Homo sapiens: one gene and its partners. The protein of the gene in region 3 purifies or fractionates together with the protein of the main gene of each other region. This does not show direct contact. Each region holds a gene or a part of one and is shown on either strand. Other genes may lie near its edges.

Region 1 (7,029 bases), on a different chromosome or scaffold from region 3:
TCAAACAGCAGCGCTCAGGTCAAACCTGAGGTCAAACAGCAGCACCGCCCTTGGCTGTGGGGGCTGGGGTGCACCCCCAGGCCTCTGAGAGTTGGAGTCCCCACCCCTCTCCAAGGGGAACGATGACTCTCTCCACAGGGCTGATGAAAGCTCCCAGCAGGACCACACGCCTAAAGATGCCTCTTAGGGACGGGTCAAAGAGGACGTGGAGGAAAGAGAAGATGGAGGGGGCCTCTCATCCTGTCCATGTGCGGCCATGCTCTGGATAGAGGAGCTGCCACAGTACCCACTGCAGAACCCCGCGGACCTGCCCTGGACTCTGCCGCGTGGGCCATGCCTCCACACGGTCAGGGCAGGGGCCGAACAGGAGCAGGCCAGAGCCACCCTCGCACTTCCCCACCAGCCAGGCGGCCCCTCACCTGGCCAGATTCTCCGTCACTCTCCGCAAGGCTTCCTGCTTCTTGGCCCGGTTCTTGGCAGCGGCCTCGTTGGCCATCTTCAGACCCAGCCGCTCCCTGCGGCCTGGCTCCAGGATCTACAAGGTAGCAGGTGTGTGGGTAGCTGCGCCAGGCCTGCCACACGCCAGGCAGCCCCTCACACAGAAAGCCACTGTGGTGGGTGCCAGCCTCTCTTTGTTGCCTACAAAACCCCCACAACCCATCACCTCCCACTAAAAGCCCCTGGAAAGCCCCAAACCCCACCTGACCTGCCCAAGGCGCAGCACTCCTCACCTGTCTTCGTGTTCCTCCCAAAACCATGACCTCTGACAATCTCTCAGGAAAAAGCAGTCTGTTTTAGTGTTTCCCTGATTATCAGAGTGAACATCTCTGTCTTTATCGGCGCTCTGTATTTCGGGCGCTTCCCCGTGTGCCTGTGGCCTATTTTGCTCTCAAGGGGCTCATTTTCCTTTTCTGCTGCTGTTACTCAGAAGACCCTTGCCAAGACCTTGTGTCAAGTCAACTGTGCTACGCTGTGCACATGTTTTTTCACTCATTTACATTTGTTTCATTTATAACATTTTCTGCTGTATTTGTTATTTTCATTTGTGATTTCTTCCTTTGCTTTTATGTTTAGAAAGTCCCTCCTAACTTAAGATTAGACTACAGGCTGGGAGTGGTGGCTCACACCTGGAACCTCAGCACTTTGGGAGGCCAAGGTGGGAGGATCACTTGAGCTCAGGCATTGGAGACCAGCCTGAGCAAAATGACAAGACCTCATTTCTACACACACACACACAAAATTAGCTGGGCATGGTGGTGTATGCTGTTAGTCCCAGCTACACAGGAGGCTGAGGCTGGAAGGTCATTTGAGCCCAGGAGCTCAATGTTACAATCAGCTATGATTGCACCACTGTTCTCCAGCCTGGGCAACAGAGTGAAACCCTATCTGTTAAAAAAAAAAAAAAAAAAAAAAAAGAGGCGAGGCACAGTGGCTCACGCCTGTAATCCCAGCACTTTGGGAGGCTGAGGTGGGTGGATCACGAGGTCAGGAGTTCGAAACCAGTCTGGCCAAGGAGTTCGAGACCAGTCTGGCCAACATGGTGAAACCCCATCTCTACTAAAAATACAAAAATAAGCCGGGCGTGGTGGCACGCGCCTGTAGTCCCAGTTACTTGGGAGGTTGAGGCAGGAGAATCACTTGAACCCAAAAATCAAACTAAATATTCGCCACTATTTTCTAGTCCCAGTTACTTGGGAGGTTGAGGCAGGAGAATCACTTGAACCCAAAAATCAAACTAAATATTCGCCACTATTTTCTTCTGGTTGTTTTATGGTTATTGTTTTTACATGTAACCTTTTCACCTTTCCACAATGTATGCTGCTACACATCCTGAGGACCCAGCTCCCTTCATTTCTAAATACTCTGCTATTCAGTGCAATCTGAGTTGCCATCTTTATCGGGCCCCAAATTCTGACTTGGATCATGGTTTGTTTCAGAATTTATCTGTTTACTGTTGGCCTGGAGACTCGGGAAGCAGTGGCAGGCATACCTCAGAAGCACCTCAGCCCTTGCCTTGCGCTCTCACATTGGACAGCACGGCATCCTCTTCATTATCCCTCTCGCACGTTTGCCTTGGTTATCCTTGTGTCCCAGACAATTTAGAACCAAGGTAACCAGAACCTCTCCCCATGTTTTGTCTGGACATGGGTTACCTGTACTAAGTATTCTGGGGAAAGGCCCGCAGTGGTATGGGGAGGCCTGTTGTATCTGACCCAGCCCACGAAGAGCCTCCCCTGGTCTGTGCCGGGCCTCACACACTCCACCCTGACCACTCCTACAACACCAGGCTTGAGCCGTGTAATCCAGCGTGTCCCAATCGTGTTCTGTAACCAGGGGCCTTCTCTACAAGCACACAGCCTCGTCCTATGGCCCTCAGGCCTGCAGAGCTCCTCACGTGTCTGTGACCATCCTGCCTCATTCATGAACAGCACCCGGCCTCCAGGATCCAGAGGGCCCAAGCCACTCCCTGCCTTGGTGTCTCAGCCCTTACACCCCCAAATCCCTCTGTGACAGGTCCACCCACCCACACCTGCCTTCAGCACCCTGGCATTCAGAAAAGCCAGCACTCTGCCCGTCAGCAGCTGGGGGCCGATCCCAGTGCTCAGTCCTGAGCCACAGGCACTCAGGGCTCCAGAGGTGTCCACCCCGGTCGCACACAGTTCCCCCATCACCACAACCCACCTTAAAAGCTGGGCCGGGTGTCCTGTCCACGTAGGGCGTTTCCGACCCTTCAACTCTCAAGGGTGTGTTCTCAACCTCCCCCCAGGTCATCATCGGGGACTCGTTCACACCTGCAGACAAAGAGCCCAAAACCACCTCAGGCCAGAGGACTCCCCACCACCCTCCCCTCCAGTCACAGCTTGTTCACCCAATGTGCATCCCAGCTAATACGAAGGCAGGCAGCTAGCCCTCTCTCCTTCCCCAGGACTCTGGAACCCTGGCACCTCCATCCTCCGAAAGGGAAATGCCAAGCTCCCAGCAGGCCCGAGGCAGGCTCAAGGCCCTACAGCCATGTGCTTAGCCTACAAGCCTCTGGGAGGTCTCCCCCAGCCACGCAGGAGGAGACACTCAGGCCTTCCAGGGCTCCCAAACCTCCTAGAACCCCAGGCAAACCTGTGGTGCCTTCACATGCCCTGGCGTGTGACACAGCACCAGCACCCAAGAGCACAGAGGCCAGAGTGCAGAGGGACACCCACGCATGCCACAAGACCACCTGAGTTTCACCTCCACTGAGGTGCTGGGCCTCCCTCCCTGCAGTGCTAGGTAGACTTAGACTCATAAGCACTGTGCACACACCCCCACCCACTGACATCACAGTAAGGACCAGGACAGGACACGTCATCCCAGGATGTCTCAGGCCAGGTCTGCCTGAGAGTCCAGCCCACCCACGGCCCCAAGCAGCCTGGACACCTGGCCTCTAGGGCCTTGTACAGACAGGAGACCAGGTCCCTGAGTTACACAAGGTGTGGGGCAGGCCAGGTAGAGGCCAGGAGTGGCCAGGGCCGACTGAGAAGCCCACCTCCCCCAGGGAGTCCCAGCAGTAGACCCACTTGCCAGTGGGCACTTTTCTCACCAGGGGCAGGGGAAGGAGTGGCAACAAATCCAAATCCACCCACTCGAGGGGACTCCTGGGGGATCAGCTCCTTGCCATCGGGGCCCACCTTGCCCTGTTTGTGCTGGAACAAGCAGAGAGGCTGGCATCAGGGGGACCGCAGCCCACGCTCGACAGCTGGCCGGTGGGCAAACACGTGGGAACATGCTGGAAACACTTCCTCTCCTCAGGGCAAGGCTGGGGCTCTGGGGTTGGCAGCCTTCTTGGAGAAAGAGAGGGAGGGCCCCTGCCCCAACCCCCCAAAAGACCTTGAGGGCCTGTCAAAGTGGGTACCCAAGCAAGGAAAGCCCCCTCCTCCCATCCAGGGAGGTGCCAGGGCCTCCACTCGAGCTGCGCCTATCCCAGCAACTCCAGAGGATGCTGACGCCAGGCCCCTGCAGGGGGCAATGCTGATGACAGGCAATGCTGATGACAGGCAATGCTTATGCTCTAGTCTCTTCCTGCCTTCCCCACTTCAACCCTGTGACTGCCACAGTCACCATCAGAGAGTATCTACTCGTCTTGCTCCCAGACTCAGAAAGCCTCTGCTCTCTGCCAACCCAGGGCCTGTCCCACCCCAGCCACCCCCTGGGGCTGGGCTCCCTCTGCGGCTCTCTGGCTTCCCTGCCCGGTGTGTGGGCGTGCAGCTGCCAGCCTGGGCTCACTCCCAGCAGTCCCTTTTCTCTCCTGCCCCTGCCATCAAGGGAGCTGGCACAGATCTGGACCTACAGAACGTGTGTGACCAAGGCAGTGTTCAATGGAAGCCCACTGGGGCCAAGGAAAGACTCAGGATCCTGCCGCACAGGGCCCCAGATGGTTCCACTCACTGAGCTCTGCCAAGCTCAAAGAGATGGGAGAGATCATGCCTGCCCCCAGGCAGCCCTGTCCAACCTGGCCCATGCGGCCCTGCTGACCCGCCTGCTCACCTGGGCATTGAGGGCGGCTGCCTGCTGGAGCTGGCACCTGCTCAGGGCTTGGCTGAAGGGGTCCCTAAGGAAGCGCGTGTTCTTATGTACCACCTGCCGGGGCTTCTTAAACAGCTGCTCCTCGTCAGGGACACCTGGCAGACGAAGCAAAGGTAGCAGCAGGTGTCAGAAGGGCAGCAGCCTAAGGAGCATGAGGAGCTCGCTTCTCGGCCAAGTCACTCCCAGATGAACAAAAGCATTGAGCAGAACGCAGGCCCCAGTGCCGCTGGAGAGGGTCTCACTCACTGCTGACCTCACACAGACCTGTCCACCCTTAGACAGACCAGTACCCATCAGAAGCCCAAACTGCAAGGGGGCACGGCCATACACACCTGGAAGGCTGCTCCAAACACAGCCAGACACACACAGCTCTACCCAACACCTCCCCATTTGGCTGCGAGGCCCGCCACTTACCCTCTGGATAGTACATGAGGGAATTCTTGGCCTTGTACTTCCAGGTCTCCACACTGGCCTGGCTGCTCTCGATGGCCTGGTGCTCTGCTGACGGGAGTTCGAGATTATCTTTCTGCCTCTGCAATCACATGGGGAAAAGTGATGGTCAGAGATGCCCCTGGGCATTGTACCCATGGCCCTGGGGCTCCCCAACCACCACAGAGGGTGCCTACGCCTATGTGACACCCCAGACCCCAGAGACACCTTCTCAAACTCTTCCTCAGCCTGGTAGAGCCAAGCGTGGCGTGCCCGGCTTCTCTCCTTGGCCACCTCCATGATCTCCTGGAAGGAGGCATTGTCCTCACTCGTGTAGCGGCTCAGGAAGACATCTAGGCTGGGCAGCGGCTCCTTCTCCTCCTCCTCTCCAGCCTCTCCTGCTTAGGGGTTGCGGGAGGAGGAACACAGCACCCTTTGCAGTCAGGAAAGAGGAGGACACCCAGGCCCAGGAATCATAGCCCCCAACATGCAGGGCTGGAATCCTCTCCCCTGGTCCTGGCTTCTGCCCATGAAAGCCCACACTGCCAAGGACTCCCCACGGGGGCAGAATCCACCCACCCTGACTGCCCAGAGAGCCCTCAGGTGGTACCCTACAGATTCAGGGCCAGCTCTGCTCATGTGCTGGATGCCAAGGGAATTACGTGGTCTGATTCAGACTGGAGAAAGCAATACAGGTGTTAGAGCAAGAGCTCGTGATCACAGGCAGGCTCCTCCCCCACCAAAGTGGTGCCAGGCCTGTGGGTGCCAGGCCTCCAAATCCCTGGGGCTCTCCCTCACTCCCTAGGATTTCCTTACCTTACCCACTCTTCTCTTCCTGGTACCTGTACTACAGGTGGGTGGTCATCGCCTAATCATCCTGACCTGAGAGCGAGCCCCAATTCCAGGGATCTCATATGACTTAGTCCTCTGGATGGGGCCTCACAGGTGCTAAGCCACAACCCCAAACACCCCCCCCTCCGACCAACCCTGCCACCATGGAAAGTGGTACTCCCACTGAGGTGGTGCCCTGGTGCTGCGTGTGGTGGTGCAAACTTCGGTGGGGCCACCTGGAGAGCTCTGCCTTCAAGTCTAGTGACAGTCCTGACCACCTGCTACACGTGAGGCTATGCACAAGGCACAGTGGCTACAAGCTCAAGACCCACGGGATGAGGACAGGGGTCAGAAACTCTATTCATCTCAGAGAGATAAGAAGTGAAACCCTGACCATCTCTGAGACCTGCAGAAGTGACTGCCTTTCTGAGCCTCAGTTTCCTCACCTGTAAACATGATGATGGTTCCTACCACTTAGGTTCTGAAAAGGATTCCTATATTTACTGGCATGTAGGTGTACAGGTATTGAAAATCTGCAAACTGGCTAGGCATGATGGCTCACACTTGTAATCCTAGCACTTCGGGAGGCCAAGGTGGGAGGATCACTTGAGCTCAGAAGTTTAAAACCAGCCTGGGCAACATAATGAAACCTCATCTCTATAGGAAAAAAAAAAAAAAGGAGAAGAAAAAAATCTACAAATTGCCCTGTGATGCACAAGCTACATTTCAACAGATAATCAAGCTTCAAGGACAACAAGGACTGTGTTAATGGCCGAAAAAGCTGGATTGTAAAGCAAAAAGTATCATGTTTGCATGTTTGTGCAAACACACAACACATCTGTGCTACTCCAGCACAGTGGAGTCTACAAACTGATAAGAAAGAGTGTCTCGTTTGTCTATACATGCACTGACATTCTACTACTGATGAAAAGAGGGCCTGACAACGCAGAAGTCCCATGGCGTGCAGAACACTTGCATTCAACAGGACTCGGAGTGCCCTTTCCTAAACCGACTCCCCCATCAAGTCACGATGTTACCATATAGAGCTGTGTGTCCCAGCAAACATGCTGAAGATGACAACTCTTTCATCTGTTCCATGTGTATCTGTGCAAGGCCCACAACACCACATGTGCTGTTCCCAACACGGAGCATACAGATGAAAGCAAAACAAAGCTTCTGCTCTTGTGCAAGGGATGCCAATTAGGGAAAGAG
Region 2 (6,089 bases), on a different chromosome or scaffold from region 3:
CCAGTCCTTCCCTATCCCCCTCCCCCTCCCCCTTGTCCGCCTCCAGTAACCACTATTCTACTCTCCACCTCTGTGGGATCAACTTTTTTAGTTTCTGCACAGGAGTGAGAACATGTATTTATCTTTCTGTGCCTGGCTTATTTCACTTCACATCATGTCCTCCAGTCTCATCCATGTTGCCACCAAGAATGACAGAATTTCATTATTTTTTATGGCTGAGTAGTATTTCATTGTTTGTTTACTGCACGTTTTATCTAGGGAATGTGTGTTTTTTTAAAAAATGGAGACAGCTGTCCTAATATGAGTCAACTGCCAAGGGCTTTCAATTATGTCTACTAGAGTTGTTAAATTGGCAGATTCTAGAAAATATTGGAGGTTTACATACAGTATTTAGACAGAATAGCTTCCTAGCTTATGCACCACACTGGTGCTAACTTTGGCAAAGAAAGCAGCAAAGACAGAGTAATGTTGGCAAGCAAATCCATCGTTATGCATTATTAAGTATTGTTCATTAGGCTGCAAAGGGTGAGGGAATCACAGTAATAACCACTTTCTGTTTTCTGCTGCACTGTATCAGCTCATGGAACATCTTACTTTGCCTCTGCACACAGAACGAACACAATCTGTGGCTTGTCCTGTCTCAAGCCTGAAGGCACGGCACCGCCTCAGTTCCTGATCCCACAGTTTAACCGCTCCTCCTTCTTTTGACCTAAGTAAATAACCAAGCCAGAGTAAGTGTTCATTATTGGCTACTATAATTTTTATTATAAACAAATACCAAGTTATAAGCAGAATCTTTTTTTTTTAAAAAGGCCCTGATATTTATAATTTACCTCTAATATTCTTGTAAACTTTCTATGGCAATTTGAGGATATACTATATCTCAGTCAAAATAAACATCCAGTTTCAGTGAATTTTATTTTGAGAAATACTCTTTTTTTCTGACATGAGCATAATTTTATTTAGCCTCTACAATACATTACAATACATTATCCTCTCTCATAATACTTTTTTTTTTTTTTTTAAGATGTAGTCTCGCTCTGTCTCCCAGGCTTGAGTGCAGTGGCATGATCTAGGCTTATTGCAACCTCTGCCTCCCAGGTTCAAGCGATTCTCCTACCTCAGCCTCCCGAGTAGCTAGCATTACAGGTGTGCACCACCACACCCAGCTAATTTCTGTATTTTTAGTAGAGATGGGGTTTCACCATGTTGGCCAGGCTGGTCTCAAATACCTTGACCTCAGGTGATCTGCCTGCCTCGGCCTCCCAAAGTGCTGGGATTCCAGGTATGAGCCACTGTGCCTGGCCTCATAATACTTCTTGATTAGGAAGATGTAAAAAAACAATTTTATTAAAAGGATAATGGAAATGTAAGGCAAAATAATAGAATTACAAATGCTATGCTACAGAGTTGATTTATTTATTTTTTTGAGACAGAGTGTCGCTCTGTCACCTGGCCTGGAGTGCAGTGGTGTGATCTCGGCTCACTGCAACCTGTGCCTCCCAGGTTCAAGCGATTCTTCTCCTTCAGCCTCCCAAGTAGCTGGGATTACAGGCACCATGCCTGGCTAATTTTTGTATTTTTAGTAGAGATGGAGTTTCACCATATTGGCCAGGCTGATCCCAAACTCCTGACCTCGTGATCCGCCCACCTCGGCCTCCCAAAGTGTTGGGATTACAGGCGTGAGCCACTGCAACTGGCCCAGAGCTTATTTTTGAAGGCCAAAACAGAAGCATATTTATTCCCTATCAGGTGTTAAAATATCTCACTGGAACAGTTTAGCAGGCTTCTAGTGAGTGGGGGTGTGCAGGAGTAAATGACGTGGGAAATACAAGTGTTGGAGGACGAAATAGAGCCCATTTATGGATTTTATTCCTGGAAGGGCTGAAAAATGTATTCCTTCCTTTTCTGCTAGATGAATTGCTTGTCTGAAAGCATGCCTATGTGCATTCTTCCTTTATGTAAAAGGCACAAATTCTGCGCTTGTGTTTAATTAACATATGTGGGTTCTTTCAATCCTGTATTGAAATGTACTTCTTAGTCAACTATATGTCACATTTTTTTTTGTTTTTGTTTTTGTTTTTTAAATGGGGTCTCACTCTGTCACCCAGGCTGGAGTGCAGTGGCACCATCACAGCTCACTAAAGCCTTGACCTCCCCAGGCTCAAGTGATCCTCCCACCTCAGCCTCCTGAGTAGCAGGGACTACAGGCATGTGCCACCACACCCGGCTAATTGTTGTTTTTTATAGCGATGGGGTTTCACCATGTTGCCCAGGCTGGTCTTGAACTCCTGGGCTCAAGCGATCCACCTGCCTCAGCCTCCCAAAGTGATAAGATTACAGGTGTGAGCCACTGTGCCTGGCCTACATGTCATGTTTCAACATGCATATGACTATGTTGGTGACAAATCAAATCATAAGTATCTGGTTACTGTTGGGAGATTTGAAAATCACTCAGAAGAGACCTCTTCTCAAATTTTGAGGTCTTGTATAAAACAGTTTAAATTTGCCTCAAGCAAAAGGAAACAAGGCAGTTCTCTCTAGTTCCCTCATCCTTTTCTAAAGCAACAATGTGCATTCTACTCCTTAGAATCCATTCTGAACAAAAAGAGAGCAGGCAGTCAAAATACAACCCTGGCTCCAGATTCCCCCATGGGCCTCCTACTCAGCAAATCATACACAGGCATACAGACATTAAGAAAAGTAACTCAACTTGTAGGACAACTACCTATCCACACCTCAGAAAAAGTATCACCCCAACATGAAAAAAATTGGAAGTGAATTAAGACCAGAAATGAGAATCAAATAGAAGGCACATAAAAGGTAATAAAGGAGAAGCATATGAGGAGGAAGGTCGGAGAGGACACTCTGTGTAGCCTAGAAACAACTAGAATAATTAACTGCAAACCTCAGGTAGGTCACAAATGCATAAATATTCTGTGAAAAGAAAGAGGACTCACGGCCTTTCCTTTCCCCCAGTCACGATAAGTCCATCTCGCAGGGTGGTGTACATGGCAAACACAGGCCCGTTGTGAGCTCTCGCCACGATTCTACACAATATGTGATCTTTCCACACACAGACATCACCACTGATGGTACCTGTAAACGTCAAGTTATTCTGAAAAGGAGTGGGGGAGGGGGAGACAAACTCATCAAAAGTTCAAATAGAGTTTAAATAGATAATTTTCTATGTATGTGTAATGCTGTCTCACCCTTGATACAAAGAGCATGCATCGTGTAGTGGCAGCAGCACTGAATTCACGAGTCAGGAAACCTGAACGGGAGGCTTAGCTTTGTCAGGACCTTTTCCTTTCCAAGTCTGTTGCTTATTAGCTAGAATAACCTTAGACAATTCTTCCCTTCCAATTCTAACATACTATAATTCTAGGGTTTATTTTTTATTTTTTTGAGACGGAGTTTCGCTCTTTGTTGCCCAGGCTGGAGTGCAATGGTGCGATCTCAGCTCACCACAACCTCTGCTTCCCAGGTTCAAGTGATTCTCCTGTCTCAGCCTCCCAAGTAGCTGGGATTACAAGCGCCAGCCACCACGCCCGGCTAATTTTTGTATTTTTAGTAGAGACAGAGTTTCACCTTGTTAGCCAGGCTGGTCTTGAACTCCTGACTTCAGGTGATCTTCCCGCCTTGGCCTCCCTAAGTGCTGGGATTATAGGTGTGAGCCACTGTGCCCGGCCTGAGCCACGGTGCCTGGCCTGGTCTTATATTAAGAATACCCAAAATGTTCAACTGAAATTTGACATGGCACAAACATTTCAATAGTCTTTTTCTCAAAAATGTAAGTGTACTTAAATATTCTAAAATTATAACTTTTCCTATAAGTATTGCATAATCACAAAAACAAAAAATGCACTTAGTTTTTCGATGCACCAAAGGATTTATACAGCCTAGCCAATGCAGGATATTAAAGGAAAGAGATGTGGATTGGAAGCCACAGGTCCAGATGAGATGGAATAAAGTGAGAGGAGAGCAGGTCTCCTGAACACCCTTCTGTCAGGGCCAGGAATTGTGCTATTTCCTTCTGTCTCACTACCTCCTTCTTCCCTCGAAGTAGAGACACTGGCCCAGAGCACTTCCAGCTGTATGATAAGCAGTGTGTTAAATGATAAAAAGCAAAGGAAATCCTAAACCCTAGTACCACCTTAAATCATTTGAAAATCATGTTTCTTGATTTACCTTTCTCTCTGACAAATTTTTAGGACTATGAAGAACTACTAGGAAGACAGAAATTTTAGGATATTTAGGGTGACAATTAGAAGATTAAGGAAGGCTTTTGAGTATAACAGTAGTCCAAGGAATCAAATGTTCATCAGAATCCTTATTATGGTGGCTCATGCCTGTAAACCCAGCACTTTGGGAGGTCAAGATGGGAGGATCACATAGCTTAGGAGCTTGAGACCACCTAGGCAACATAGCGAAACCCTGTCTCTACTAAAAATGAAAGAAAAATTAGCCTAGCATGGTGGTTCCTGCCCTGTAGTCCCAGCTACTAAGGAGGCTGAGGATCACTTGAACCTGGGAGATGGAGGCTACAGTGAGCTATAATCGCACCATTGCACCCCAGCCCAGGCGACAGAGTGAGATACTGTGTCAAAAAAAAAAAAAAATCCTTTTCCCCCTCTCATTAACATTCTTTTCACTCCCTAATTTCTGAAAGAACTAGATTTTTGAAAGATGAAATATATGCTTGACCAGGGCATGTAATGATTAGCAGATCACAGTATCATCTCAACAACATTCATGTGGCTGATGATCTAAGGCAAGAGAATGTAAAGTAGTCAAAGTCACACTATGTGCATTTTAAGAGACATACTGCACCAAATGCAATAGCGAGCATGGTCTGCATCCGGGCATCTTCCAGTGTGCTCAGTAGCCCTTTTTTGCTAAGAAGAGCTCTTCCTGCCAGGGTCCAGAACTTCACATGTTTTACTCCCACTGAGACAAACTGGGTATCTGAATCTGGTCGGAATTCTGCCACAAAAATACGTTGATTGTGACCAGCTCTGCTGGCAATTTTGGCACCTGACAAGATACAACAAAATTATCTAGGTTATTACAAGAACCAAGCTAATCAACAGCATCAAACAAATATGTAAAATACATAGTTCAAAAAACAAAGGCTTAGAAGAGAGGCCAATGGCCCCTGCTCTACTACCTAGCAATACATGATTTACAATTATTTGTGTATTGAGTCCTTTTCACTTATCTTCGCTCCATTAACTTTTCTTTATATAACGTAAATGTTTTGTCTAAAGTGTGGTAGGTAATATTATCCTGCTGATCTGCCATTATCATTAGAAATATACATAATTTTCATAAGAATCTCCAAAACCAATCAAATCATTAATAATAAATACATAGTTTCTTGCTGGAAGAAAATAGCAGTGAATCATTTATAATGCTAATAATGGTTTCATTAATTTATCTGTTTTGTGAGGTTACAGTTCCACTGGGCTTTTAAAGTGAAATATACCTACAGTACCACTGTGTACAGTATATTGCATAGGCCTCCACTGAATGATTGTTTCAACCACCAACTTTAAGACAAATATTAAATACAGAATTCCTACTACCTTTGTATTCTTGTTTTTTTAAAAATCAAACACACAAAAGAATCCTACCTTCCTGCCATCTCCAAATGGTAATAGTATGTTCTGGGTCTAGTCCCACAGACAGCAATAGTTTGCCAGTAGCACTGAAGCTGACTGAACATACTCCCTTTGAATGGTAGCATCTTAGGATAGATAAAGTCTGCTTGTTCATTGCATCCCAGATGTGAATAGAAGGAGCTGTAGCTAAATAAAGATAGTATCAAAAAGTTGTAATCTACCTGTTATAAATATTTCTGTTTCTAAAGCTTATGCATATTCATCTGTGAAACATGGACAAATGTGTACCAAACAAAAACTGTACTTAACAAAGAACAGCTCAAAACTAAGGCTAAATTTAAGAAAGGAAAAGGAGTTTTGGGGGTGGGGAGGAAAGAAAAGGAAAATATATAGAACACTTCTTCAGGCCATATTCCAAATTGCACTTTTGGAAAAACAGCATTTAGACAAGCAAATCAGGCAATC
Region 3 (6,955 bases):
TTTAGTAATTAGCTCACTATACAAAATAAGAAAATCCTAATTTCAGGCTTAGTGCCATCATATTGGCTTCAAATCTTAGAACTATACACCTCAAGATATCAAATATGGTGTCCACAGACAGTGACATAAACTATCTTCTTTATATAAATGCAACAGGATTTCCTTCACAGAGAAAAGCTACTCGGAGAACAAAATAACTCACATACATTGTATTTCCCCGCCAGGAAATACAATGAAATGTCCAAAGACTTTTGAGATACTTGCATGAGTTGTGAATAAAAAATATATACAACTTTCCAGATATTACACTAACTTTTAATCTTCTACAGTTAAATGGCCCATTGCACGCCTTACTTTTTGACCACAAAGAGTAAAAACTAAGGCGTAAAACCTTTCATTCCACAAACTGAGGTTACAGACAGTGAAATATTTGCTTGAAAAAGCCAGTGTATGTTATAAACCCCTTTGTCATGGGCCCCTCTGTATGTTGCAGTCAGTTTTTATTTCTGTAGTTACCTAGAAGAAAACTTCATCTGAGAGGTAAAAAGTTGTTGTTTCATTTGCTTTATGTTTATTTTACAGAATTCAAAGTATATACACATGGTAATTTAAAGCTAAGCTTTTCATTTAAGGGGGGAAAAGGTAAGAAAATCAAAGCTTCAAAATCAAAGTATTTAAATAATGGTGACTCTCCAGATTTTAAGATGTATGCCTTCAGGAAATTTATTTGGACAGAAAAATTTCCAGCAGATTCGGTCACAGTGTTAAATACAGAAAAGGCTTTTTATTGCCAACTGGTACGTCTCTGAAAAGTAATGCTAAATTATACTGAAAACATGTAACAGGATAATCATAAAATATCATAGAATACATTCAACATTGAATACGTCAGTGCTACCAACACACGAAATCATCACCTCTATCACCAACCCCTCACTCCTGCCCTGTACACAGTTCTCAGGGGAAAACCTTTAGAGCCAGTATCAGGTGGTTAAAAAGAGGGAAAACTCTGCCCCTTTAACAAAATTTAAATAAAAGGCATTTTTTTAATACCTTAGAGGTGTAGGGTCATTACTGCAAACTAACAGCGTCGTCCTCAACATTAAACCCAAGTGATCATCTTATAAGAAACTATTTCCCCATCCCCTGGAAGACGACACCAGCAGGCACTTAAAACCAACGCAACACAACAGGGAAAAAAAAGATCCAAAGACAGCATCCCTAAGAAAGCAAAGCCCTTTGGTAAAGCAAAATAGGCTGGGTAGGACCTACTGCGTCGTTTACTCATTGCGAAGAGGAGGAGCAGGAGTTGAGCGTGCGAGGGCCGGTGCCATCCTCAAGGCTCTGGAAATGTCTCCAGCTCCGGCTCGCGTGGCCTGGAGCCAGCCCCTCCGGAATATGCGGTCTCTGCCGCTTCTACCCCCATCTCCCGGGTGCTCTGAGGGTCCCCTCTAGCCCGCCCGACGGCCAGCGCCACGTACACGGCCCTCGCCCCTCCTGCTGTGCAAGTGGCCCTCGGAGAACTTACAGGGCCCGCCGGCCGCCTAGTGCCCGGCCGGCGCGGCCCGCAGCGCAGACGCCACCCGCCCCGCCGGGAGACGACCTGGGCGCAGCTCACCGTGGGAGGGGTGGGGGGAGGGGACTGTATTTTGCGCACATCTAGAAAACGATCCTGAAGCAGGGAACGGACTTTGGTTTTCCCTGGCTCCCTGCGCCGCTCTCCCCACCTCGGGCTCGGACACTGCCCGGAGATGCGCGCGCGCAAACACAGACACACACACACACTCACACTCACACATTTCTTTGCTAGGACCAGTGTTGCCACTGCACACCCGGGAAACGCCTCCAAGGGGACCAAGTACCTGCTCTCTGCGAGCTGCTCAGCTGTTCACTTCATCCTCCGTTGACAAGGAAACCAAACCGCACTTCATTTTTTTTTTTCCAGAAAAACCTTCCACTGCCATCATTTGAAAATTGATTTACGGGGAGGGAAGGGGGAGAAATAAGGGACAATATAGATATAGATATCAGGATATCTATCATAAAATTATCTCGGTTTTTTAAAAAAGTCAAATGTGCAAAAGTCATAGTTAATTTAAAGGAGGAAAAAAGTATTTTGCTTAAAAATGATCCCAATCACCAGCTGTAAGAAAAGTTTCATGTTATCAATGGGTATCAAAAACAGGAGGGAAAAAAAACGAATTTGTTTTCACCGGCTTCCAAAAAGGGCACAAAAAATATAAAATTAATGTCTTTGCTCAGTGGTTTGCACCAGTATTGCAAGACCACAAACTTGTAAACACTGCCGTAAAATCCCACCTATACAAAAATGTTATCAGAAAAAGAGTATGCAAAAAAAGAGTTAGAAACATGCTTTTTATTTTTACAAAGGAAAAAAATAGGCACCATACTTCACATCGCTTTTTCCATAAAACCAGTTGCACATTTTGCTGGACTTGGGAGACGCTCCCAGCGGGCACGGTCGCCGCGGACTCCGAGACACAGCGCCTTGTCTACAGAACGATCGCATGCTAGAAAAACTTGGATTCAGGAAAAGGCTCAAAACCATGCTCCTCCAGCTTTCCCAAATATAAACAATAATCAAAGAAGTGGAAAAAAAGAAAAAAAACAAAAACAAAAAAAACAAAAAACCAAAAAAAAGGACAAAAAAAAGAATAGGACAAGAATGCCACTGAGAAGGTACTCACCGAGCGGGAGTAAAATGTTGGAATAAAAATGAGATTTAGTATAAAATACAGTATGGCGGTGGAAGAAGGAATGAAGCGCGTTTTTTTCTCGCAGTCTCTGCCTCAGGCACTGACACGTGACTCGGAGCCAGGCTGACTTGCAGGCAGCGGGGAAGGACCGAGGCTGCGAGGGGGGAAGCCCACGGAGCCCAACTCTGGCTGGCGAGGCGGCGGCGGCGGCGACGGGGAGCCTGGCGCCTGAGAGCGGCAACACCAGTGGCGGCAGCAGCGGCAGCGGCAGCTCGCGGCGAGGCTGCCTTCGCTGTGAGCCCAGACGAGCAGGTGCCCCTCACGCTGAGGCTGAGCACACGCACACGCACACGCAAGACAGGCAGGGCGCCGGCGAGAGGGGGAGCCGAGCGGGGTTGGGCCCGAGGCGCGCAGCTGCCGCCGCCTCTGCCGCTGCTGCCGCGATTGCTGCTGCTGCCTCTGTTGCTGCCGCCGCCGCCTCGCATTGGGAGTGTGTGCTGTGGGGGCAGCTCAGGGGTGCTGATCCAGCGCCTTGAGAGGAGGTGCACAACTTGCTGCTCACCTCAAAGTTGTTGCTTGCCACTTCCTTGTGTATTTCATCTATTTTTCATCTACAGGTAGTTACCTGGGGAGAGATCCCATCGTCTTCTCTCTGGAAGTTTTACTATTCAAGCCCACATTCACTCATTCATTTTGTTTGTTTGTTTGTTTGTTTCCCTGATTTTCCATTTCCCATCCCTCCCAAGCTGCCTTTGCCTCTGCTGTTCCCTCCTCCCTAGATCTGCGTTTCCCCCTCCCGGTTCTCAGGGAACCTGGCTCAGCGCGATGCTGGGGGCGTTGTCACGGGCAAAGCCACTGTCAATCTTTATTGCCATCTGAACGCACAGCCTCTCTTTCGCCGTCTTCAAGGGGAATGCTTGCAGTTTGAAAGACACAACAAAATCTCTTATTTAGGAAACCCCGTCCCGGGTTTCTTTCTGCGGGTTGCGGAGCGGTGGGTGGGGGCATGGGTGTCCTTTATTCATTCGTGGACAAGGCATTGTTTTGTCTGTGTGTGCGCCCGTGCTTCTGAGCTGGTCTGGAAAGCTCCAAGGGTCTATGCTCCATGGCAGAGACTCCTGTTTGACTCTTGCTCAAGTTGTTCGCTGAGGCTGGAAGTCAAAGGAGAGGGGCATGGGAAACAAGTGAGTCCATTGTGTGAGTGCTCGCCTGGAGGGAGCAAGCACTTGGCGGTCGAGAGGGGGAGACGTGTACCAGCAGTGAGGCGGTGGCGCACCCCGCGGGAGCCAGGTGGCTGAGCAGTGGATTCTGAAGGTGAGGGTGGCAGAGGGATTTCTCCACCCAGCGTGTGGGTTAGGGCGCTCATCGATCGCCTGAACAAAGATGCCATCAGCCAATCGCTGGGTGCATTGGGCTTCTATTACTGCCTGTTGAAGAATCAGCTTTGTGGACGCTAGAACACATCTATTTTTCTTCATTTTTGTACAATACTCACCTCAGGACCATTTCCCTGTGCTGCTTTGAATCTAGGTTGTGTGGAATTAATTGGCGTCTCTATATTTGAGAATGAGCAATTAACACAATTCTGCAGTTCAAAGATTCCTGCTCCCGATCTTTATCTCAATGTTTCCAATGCTGACGTTTCATATAAAATGCCTCCATCAGAGATGATCTAACCTCGACATTCTGAAAATTAAGTACACATCCTTCACACAGAGCTTCAGTAGCAAATATGGTCCTCAAACATTGTGCTCAGAATTCATTGGCCAAATAAAGTTTTAATCCGCAATTTAAATAAGAGATTTAAAATAGCCATTAAAATATCACTAAATATTTATTTTGGTGAGTTGCCAACTGTACACCCACTTATTATACATACTTTCCAGGGAGGACTGTTGATTAGGAATACTGACAGAGAGAGATGAATACATCAAAGTGGATTTGATAACTTTGGAAGCCTTGAGTTCTACTCGGAAATCACAGAATTTTAAGCTGGCTAATACAGATCAAATATTGTGCTCTCGCTGTAAAACATGTTGGACTTATTTTATTTTATTTTATTAAGTAAGATCTCTTTACACGTGATCTTTTTCTTCCACAAGTCCTGAATTAATTTTATCTAGGATTTAAAACTTAGTTTGTTAAATTTTCCACATTTTCTCTTCCATTTGAAAATATATCTGATTCTAAACATTTAAGAAGAAAATATTTTAATGCATATCTTTTTCCATCATTCATATCACAGTGGTATTCAAATGTGAAAAACTTCACTTTAAAAATGAGTTTTGAACCTTTCAACCAGGCTGGGAAGAGTTATTCAAGAAGAACTTTGAAAAACAAGCTATTTAGAATTACACTGCACTAATGGCTGTCAGCCAATCACAGTGATTGTCAGTCTTTTATTATTCAATAAAATGACTCCCCTTTATGTTAATGCAGCTCTGCTGAAGAAAAGCAAGACATCAATATCCTCCCTGCACTTTTCCCGTTTACTTATATAATTACATTAGAGTACTCAAAATATTCCACTATCGTTTATTTCCAGTGTGCCATTTTCATCTTTTTGGGTTGTATCACTGCATTATAAACAAGAGTAAACAAAGTCAGGTTGAGGCAACTGGTATTTAGAAAGTATAGCCACTCATTTAATTTTTGTAACAGCTCCATGACATTGACTTTATACTCATTTTAACCATTAGAAAAATAAAGTCAGAGATTTTGAGTAATTTGCACATGATTCTATTGTTAGTACACAGGAAAAACAGGATTGAACCAAAATTATATCTGGTTTTACAGCTAGAATAAAAAAATTCAAAAAATACATCAAAGATACTGAATACTCTTCAGTAATGTCATCAAAGCCAATTAACAAAGGCATGATTTGCTCAAATTCAGTAGATCTAAAATAGATTTGTGAGAATTAATTTAGTCCTATTATTGCCACAAATAACCATTGTAGTACACATATTTATATTCACCTTTTTGATTCTATAAAATACCTGAAGAAAATAAACGAAATGCAGAAGTGAGGGGGTTAAATTTTTCTTAACGAAAAATCTGTACAAAAGATGTGGTCATGTTATCGTGGTTACGTCTTCAGGAGTTGACTACAGAGACTTTTTAAAACAAAGTTTTCATGTAAACTGTTCATGTCCATTCCAAGCTAAGCCATGGTATAATTGAAAAGTACACTAAATGTAAGATAAAACAAATGATGGTAACTGAGGAAAAAAATCTATTTTAAAATTTATGCTATGTAATCTCAATGTTTGTTTCCATAAGAAAATATTGAAGATATATGAACCATAACTATATATATATATATAAAATATAAATATACACTTAGAAATTAGGTTATAATATCATGGTTTAAATGCATACTTTTACATTCAGTACCCTCAAATCATTTTCTTTCATTTTGCTTGCTAATTTTTTTCATAACTTTATGAATTTTATTTTTGATTAATTTTTTTCCTTATTTGTCCTGTCTCTGCCTATTACTATACTTTACTGATACTTCTCTTTCAACGTCTGATAGCATTTTTTCCAATACTTTTGTTTGGAGAAACTACAAATACCAAGACAAAGACATGTGAAATAATGTGTACAAATAACCAAAGAAAATATATGAAAACAAATATTAACATTATAATATGTCATGAGTAAAATAAAGCAAGAAGCACTACCACAATTTCTGTGTAATTTAATTTTTAATATATTTCAACTGTTTTTTTAAATATATTTTTAACTTTTACTTTAAGTTCAGGGGTACAAGTGTAGGCTTGTTGCATAGGTAAACTTGTGTCATAGGGATTTGTTATACAGATTATTTCATCACCCACGTATCAAGCCTAGTACCCATTAGTTATTTTTCCTGATCCTCTCGCTCTTCCTACCCTCCACCCTCGAAGAGGCCCAAGTGTTTTATTTCACTCTTCACATTGTATATTAATGGAATTCAAAAAATTCTGATATGTAGACTAAAATACATAATACGTTAAGGTTTATTATGATTTAGGTACACTCATATTTATTTCCATATTAAATTAATAAAATGTCTATTCTCTAGAAAGTTAATGTAGAACAAATTAATGTCTACTAGTATTATTGTATCAATATGTTTATTTTGAATTAAATACATGGAGTATAGTTCTATGATACAGTAGCCTGCAATAGTGACAGGGTGTGTACAAAAGAAATCACTGAGGTGTTTCCTGATAAATATACTTGAGGCACAG
Region 4 (7,029 bases), on a different chromosome or scaffold from region 3:
TCATCAAACCTAAATATCTGATGTAATATAACATTAGAATAAGCAACACTGTAAATGCTAAGCTATTCTTTACAGTTTTAGATAATCACTATGTATTTTCCTAAATATAACTAATTATTAACAGGTACATTCTAGAATACTTACGATTTGTTTTGGTGAATATGCATTTCCTTCTACAAGTCAAAATAAGTATGAGAGCCTTAAGCTCCATCTTTTCACACGAAAATCCAAGTTTATTCTGAATATAGCTGAATAACGATTATGAACTGTGAGGATACCTGAGTATTTGGCTTCATTAAAAACATTTAAAATGACTGGGGCACTATTAATACACCAAAAGAGTCAACTTTATCTTACGAAAGAATAGATTGTGGACTATTCAAGTTTCTTTTTATCTACCATTTAATAAAATTCATTCACACTTGGAAAAAAATTATCTGTGGCTATCATTAATCATGCTATTTTTTCTCCTTTATCAGTATACAGAAGTCTGCTGTAATTTCCTTGGGATACAAATTGTCCAACACAATTATACTTAACATAATGATTTTATTACAGCTGATAGTAAGGGTAATTGATATTGTATGAACAGCGAACAGAGTAAATATGAAGGTTTTTCATAAAAATGAAGATGTACAAAAAATATGTTACCATGTAAGATTGTCTTCTCCTCCCCAGGTTTCTCTTCTTCCTGTTTTCCTTTTTTCTGCCTCTTTGCTGTGATTTCATCCAATTCTTTTTGCTCTTCCTAAGAAAATTAAGGAGTGAAATTTAAAATGAATGTTCTAGAACCTCATTATACCTAAAGTTGGTTATAAATTCTTTATAATGACTTCTACATATCTGGTCCGAGTATGTTCCCAGGATAACAAGCTCAACACTTTTTTTTTTTTTTTTTTTTTCTGAGATGAGTCTCGCACTGTCGCCCAGGCTGGAGTGCAGTGGCGCGAATCTCTGCTCACTGCAACCTCCCTCTTCCTAGTTCAAGCAATTCTCCTGCCTCAGCCTCCCGAGTAGCTGGGACTACTCGGTGCACACTACCACGCCTGGCTAATTTTTTCTGTTTTAGTAGAGACAGGGTTTTACTGTGTTGCCCAGGCTGGTCTCGAACTCCTGAGCTCTGGCAATGCGCCCGCCTCGGCCTCCCAAAGTGCTGGGCTTACAGGCCCGGCCAAGCTCAAGTCTTCTATAAGCAGAGACTGATTACCTCTTCCACAAATTATGAAATGGTACTAAATACATAATGGATACTAGATAATACTTTTCAACTATATAAAATCAGTTTTCAAAACTTATCCTTCTGTGACACCTAGAAATAAATTTTAACATGTTATACTAGTTATACAAGTAAAAAGACAAGGCAATCAGAAAATCTAGTTTCAGAATGGAAACTGAATTTTAGCACATAATGTTGTTTTTCAGTTAATTGTTTTTACATACTCCTAAGGATATAAGTGATAGCTATACATTTGTGACACAATTTTTTTGGGAGGAGCTGGGGACAGAAGATGGGGTAGTAGTAAATCTCTATCTATAATAACAAGTCAACAGATAAAATCTAAAATAAAAAATAGTAGAATAAGTTTATTCATCTTAGATATCACCTGTTTATTTCTATTACTATAAACATGGATTTACTGGATGTAAGTAACAGCTAGAATATAAGCTTCATGAGGTCATGATTTTCTTGATCTTGTCCACTGCTGTATGCCTGGGACCTAGAACACTCTCTGGCTCATGGAGACAGTGAGATTAGGAGGTGAGGAAGGGAACGGCAGAGCATTTACTTTACAAACTTTATAGTAGTTTTTAAGATATATATAGAGATAAAATTTGTTGAAAATTTTAAATAAATTCATAAATCAATAAAATTTATAATCAATTCTAGTGTCACAGAAGGCTGATTTTGTAGTTACTATCTGAATGTCTAGTATCAGAAGAGTAGCTACCATGGCAGCTTAATAGCAATATCAAGGAAATCTTTATGAAAATTGTTCAATATTGTATTTTAATAAAAAAGCATGAGAGAAAACAAATCAGCAGAAAAGGTAAATAAAAATATCCCAAAGAAAAACAAATAAATTTTATTGTATATTTTCAATCAACTAAAGGCAGAAAAATTTTGATGAGTCATTTGGTTCTCTAAAGAAATCTCAAGTTTATTAATGTAGATATCCTTCATAGAGATACAGCGTATACCTGAATTGACAATTAAAAACATCAAAGCTTACTTCTGAAGGTTTGGCTACATCTTTTTCATCCACATATTTTGCCCATGGTCCCAAAAAACCATCAATATTGGATGCATCATTTTCTTTAAACTTTTTCCTCTTTTCTGTTTTCTTCTGACCAGTTTCAAATACAGTTAAACCTACGTTAACAAAAAAAAAATTAAAAAAAAAACTGAGAGATTACAAAGATGTACATTTTCTAAAGAAATATGAACATATGTTTAATTTTATTTTATATGGTTAAAGAAAGATGATTGTTCAAGTGACCCCAGAGTTATTAAAAAACAATCTACATGAATCTACCATATACGCTGACTCATGCTACAGAAAAAGGGATTCAACCTTCTGGGCAAAGACACTTAAAACTAATTCAATATTCTGCAAATTCTAATACTGTATACTTAAAGAAGAGACCCAAATATGTACTCCTACAATGGCGCACAAGCCTTTTATTGAATCAAAAAGCTGTGTCAGTGGATTTGTACGACTTTCTGGAAAAAACTCAGAAACTCATTATTGCTAAGTAATAATAAAGTGACATTTGGAAGCAAGAATAAACTGTAATTTATCATTTTAAAACTAAATTAAACTAAATTACTGTAAGTACTTAATAACTTATCTTCACTTCACTTGTAATGCAAAAATGTAAATCAAACAAGGTTTCACCAGAAATGGTATTCCTTCCAAGTGATTTCAGTCTCATCTTGACCTCTAATATCATTAACGTTAACAGTAAAAGAAAAGGAGAAGGAGGGTGTTTCTGGTTGAGATTTTGATTTGATTAGTAGGAGGTGGCATACTGTGTATAGTCATTAACTTGGAAAAAGAAAGGTTTGTGGAATCATAGTCACAAGTTAACTAAGAATCTAGCTACCTTTAGATGGGACTTGCAGAGGTCTAGCTTAAAGAAGAAATGTCTACCTATATTAATTCAGGCTATGTTTTATAGCAAAAGCCTGTTAAAATTCTATTTTAACAATAATCTAGCTCATATACAGAGACCAGCCAGATCACATAGGATCTATAGCTACTAAGCACAAATGTCCCATGCAACCAACCAGCAAATTACTTTTTAAATTGCATTTTATGGATAATATTCTAATGGACTGATGAGGCTTGTGACAAGTTAGCGTTTAGCGTATGATGTTTTGTCTTATTGTAAGTACAAAATGAATATGAATACAAGCATACATACAACACATATTCAAACTCAACCTTCAAAGCAACTCTTCAAAGACAATCTTCACAGACTTACCAAATAAAGTATTTCTACTCTGTTAAAATGAAGCTTGACATTAATGTTGAGAAATCAATTGCCAAAATTATCTATACATTAGTTGTAATTTATTGAGTGATTTCTACAGGGTTGGCATGGTGCCAAGTACTCAAAGTAACTCAAAGAGATATGTATCATTATTTTCCCTACAAGATTCCACAACTAGTAAGCGGCAAAAGCAAGCTCTAAACTGTAACATTTCTGAACTATATTGCTCTAAACTGTATCGCTCCATTGTTTCAACTTTAAAAAAAAAAGCGCTAAATACTATTTTTTACTGTCTAATTAAAGTCACTCTGCAAGACACTAATTATAGATGTGTAGGTATATATGATATCAAATGTTTCAAATAAATTACCTTGATTTTTTTCAGCTTCTTCTACAGAACCAATATATTTAGCAGACACTTGATGATTATCTAATGAAGGGTCTAATGCATAACCTGAAAGCAAAAAAGTGAAAATTATTAACTCCATTTTGCTGTTTAAATTCATTTTATTATTATAATACAAATATACACATTTCACATTTTCTTTCCCAGATGTCAAAAATGATCTCTAACTCAGGACCAATCAGGACCAATCATTCTGCCCTGAGCTATATTGCTTCCTTTTTTTTTTTTTTTTTTTTTTTGAGATAGGGTCTCACCCTGTCACCCAGGCTGGAGTGCAGTGGTGTAATCTCGGCTCACTGCAACCTCCGCCTTCCAGGCTCAAGCAATTCTCCTGCCTCAGCCTCCAGAGTAGCTGGGATTACAGGCATGCGTCATTACCCCTAGCTAACTTTTGTATTTTTTTGGAGAGATGGGGTTTCACCATGTTGGCCAAGCTGATCTTGAACTCCTGACCTTAAATGATCCACCGCCTTGGCCTCCCAAAGTGCTGGCATTACAGGTGTGAGCCACCACTCCCGGCCCCTGAGCTATATTTCTATTTAGAACCCAAAGCTATATTTTTCTATTTAGAACCCAAAGCTCAGGCTAGACTCCAGCATAATATGTTTCTTATAGGATGAATTTTGCATACTGACATTACATTACTAAGAGCCTCTCTGGCCAACACATCAAACTTTAGTTTTAAATATTCTAAGAGCTTGAAAATACATGTACATGATGCACTTGGAAATCTAGAAACCATTTTCCTTTTCTTCTTGGTAATAGATATTGCAGGGCTAAGTTTATCAAATTATGTAAATTATTAAATAAAAAAGGGTAAGAAGATTACATAAAATCTAGCTATTATTTTGAAAATACCATTTGCAGTAAGGACAGTCTTCCTTCCCAATCTTAATATATTTCTATTTCATCAATCATTCTTTATATTTCCTTAAGAGAAGGAAGGATATCTACCAGCATACGAATGTGCTTTTTAAACTAATTATAAAGTATGTAGCTACATATAAATGTGGTCTTCAGTGGTCCATGGGAATTTAAGGAAAGAAAGTCTACCTAAGTTAGCTCAAATCAGTTTTTTTCTCAAATGGGTGTGCTAGCACAGTAAATGTTTGGTAACATTAGTCTGGTATATTCACAAGAGTGCTAAATCACTGATCACTTTATGGCCTACAACTCATGTGTACGATAATAGAATACATAAAAAAGTACTAAGCCCATTTTTTCTAAAGGGCACATCCTAGAGGATAGACTTATTATTTTCATTTTTCATCCAAAGTAGTCCCAGCTACTCGGGAGGCTGAGGCAGGAGAATGGTGTGAACCGGGGAGGTGTAGCTTGCAGTGAGCTGAGATCGCGCCACTGCACTCCAGCCTGGGCGACAGAGCGAGACTCCATCTCACACACACACACAAAAAAACAGAATATAGGGAACTTCTTTTGGGGAACAGAAAAAGATTCATCATGAAGCATGCTTTTCAAACAAGCTAAGGATGTAAGTGCTGAACTCACCCTCATGATATGCTATAACAGAACCAACCACCTGGCTATTAGCTGATTTGCATATAGTTTTTTTCAGCATTAAAATATGTTCTTAACCAGAGGAGAGAGCTTGGTGGCAGAAAATCAGCCTTTGGAGTAGAATCTCTGAAATCACAGGTTCAAATCCCATGAGTTATTTTGTCTTTAATCTCTTTGATGTACAGAAGTGTTCTGCACATAACTTTTTCCAAAAAATGAGACTTTTATAAGCTCATACCATGTTAAAAGTTTCCATTTCAATAATAAAAAACGTATCTAGCTAGAATGTAAATTTCTACTTTGAAAGGAGACTTAACGTCTACATAAATAGCATTTCATGACGCGTCTGGAAGGGTGAAGGAGTAGACAGAGAGGGAAGAGGTATCCCTGGTCCTTGTCTCTGTGTAAGCACCATTCCCCAACTCATCTGGCCACTGTCTTGTTACTCAGAAAAATAAGTTATGCTTTCCTCTTGCTCCACATCCTCTGTGGTAAAAATCTTTACTGCCATACCACCATCCCCACTACTGCCTTCCACCCCAGGTGATTAGAAAACAGTATTATTTTCCTTTTACAAATAAGAGTTAAATATTTGGCCTTATGTCTTACTACAAATCAGCCAGTGATAGAACAAGATCTAATTCTAACACTACTAAATTTCAGTCCAATTTGTTTTCTCACTATCTTGTGTCTCAAATAAGTGAATATTTCTACATTTCTTAAATATTCTTATCTATCTTCCTGAAGCTTGTTTTCCCTTTTATCTTTTTAATGGAATTAATGTCTACTTTCTTCCCTTCGGCAGTCTTATTTGAAATGGCCATAATATTGATTTTATTATTATACCCTTAAGATTATTAAACTAATAATAATTATTAAAACTAATTCCATTAGGCAAATGAAAAGAGACTATAAACAATTTGCAAAAGAATGGTCATAAATATATGAAAAAACCTTCGACCTCACTAGTAGTCCGGAAAAATCAAGTTGCAATAAAGAAATATAATACTTTGATTATCAAGTAAACAAAGGAAAAACAATCATATGGATCTTTGATGAAGAGAAATAGGGCCGGGCATCGTGGCTCAGGCCTGTAATCCCAGCACTTTGGGAGGCCAAGGAAGGCAGATTACTTGAGGCCAGGAGTTTTGAGACAAGTCTGGCCAATATGGTAAAACCCCATCTCTACGAAAAATACAAAAAAAAACATTAGCTATGTGTGGTCGTTCATGCCTGTAATTCCAGCTACTCAGGAGGCTGAGGCATGAGAATTGCCTGAACCCCAGAGGTAGAGGTTGCAGTGAGCAGAGATCCCACAACTGCACGGCCTGAGTGACAGAGCGAGATCCTGTCTCAAAAAAAAAAAAAAAAAAAAAGAGAAATAGGACTTTTATACACTGTGGTGGTAGAGTAGGTTGAGAGAATTCTTTTGGAAAGCAATTTGATAATATATACCAAAAGCTTTTAAAACACATATTCTTTTACCTACGTTTGGGAACTCATTTAAGAAAATAGTATAAAATAATATAAGAACATGTAAAGTTTTATGTACAAAAATATTCACTACCATGTTTTAAAATGCACTTTGTAGCATAACATACATCACATTT

What was found.
Region 1: the proteins of RALYL (region 3) and ESS2 purify together in Homo sapiens (affinity purification with mass spectrometry; 3 studies listed by BioGRID and IntAct, with this or other methods). This does not show direct contact.
Region 2: the proteins of RALYL (region 3) and ZC3H14 purify together in Homo sapiens (affinity purification with mass spectrometry; 3 studies listed by BioGRID and IntAct, with this or other methods). This does not show direct contact.
Region 4: the proteins of RALYL (region 3) and CDC40 purify together in Homo sapiens (affinity purification with mass spectrometry; 3 studies listed by BioGRID and IntAct, with this or other methods). This does not show direct contact.

What each region holds. Positions count from the first base shown.
Region 1 is NC_000022.11:19,134,641-19,141,669, forward strand, and holds part of ESS2 (splicing factor ESS-2 homolog), read right to left. Parts: intron 5,388-7,029; coding exon of another isoform or gene 5,385-5,387; coding exon 5,215-5,384; intron 5,090-5,214; coding exon 4,972-5,089; intron 4,653-4,971; coding exon 4,519-4,652; intron 3,840-4,518; coding exon of another isoform or gene 3,780-3,839; exon of another isoform or gene 3,678-3,779; coding exon 3,575-3,677; intron 2,793-3,574; coding exon 2,683-2,792; intron 2,307-2,682; exon of another isoform or gene 1,699-2,306; intron 1,620-1,698; exon of another isoform or gene 1,569-1,619; intron 536-1,568; coding exon 420-535; intron 1-419. UniProt on the Homo sapiens protein: May be involved in pre-mRNA splicing.
Region 2 is NC_000014.9:88,622,010-88,628,098, forward strand, and holds the end of ZC3H14 (zinc finger CCCH domain-containing protein 14), read left to right. Parts: 3' UTR 1-594; coding exon of another isoform or gene 595-709; 3' UTR 710-2,960; coding exon of another isoform or gene 2,961-3,118; 3' UTR 3,119-4,828; coding exon of another isoform or gene 4,829-5,037; 3' UTR 5,038-5,587; downstream 5,588-6,089. Other genes in the region: EML5 (echinoderm microtubule-associated protein-like 5), read right to left, coding at 595-709, 2,961-3,118, 4,829-5,037, 5,637-5,810. UniProt on the Homo sapiens protein: RNA-binding protein involved in the biogenesis of circular RNAs (circRNAs), which are produced by back-splicing circularization of pre-mRNAs.
Region 3 is NC_000008.11:84,179,332-84,186,286, reverse strand, and holds the start of RALYL (RNA-binding Raly-like protein), read right to left. Parts: upstream 3,014-6,955; 5' UTR 1,863-3,013; intron 1,617-1,862; exon of another isoform or gene 1,289-1,616; coding exon of another isoform or gene 1,273-1,288; exon of another isoform or gene 1,104-1,272; coding exon of another isoform or gene 1,054-1,103; intron 1-1,053.
Region 4 is NC_000006.12:110,204,426-110,211,454, reverse strand, and holds part of CDC40 (pre-mRNA-processing factor 17), read right to left. Parts: intron 3,950-7,029; coding exon 3,866-3,949; intron 2,372-3,865; coding exon 2,232-2,371; intron 749-2,231; coding exon 652-748; intron 1-651. UniProt on the Homo sapiens protein: Required for pre-mRNA splicing as component of the activated spliceosome. Plays an important role in embryonic brain development; this function does not require proline isomerization.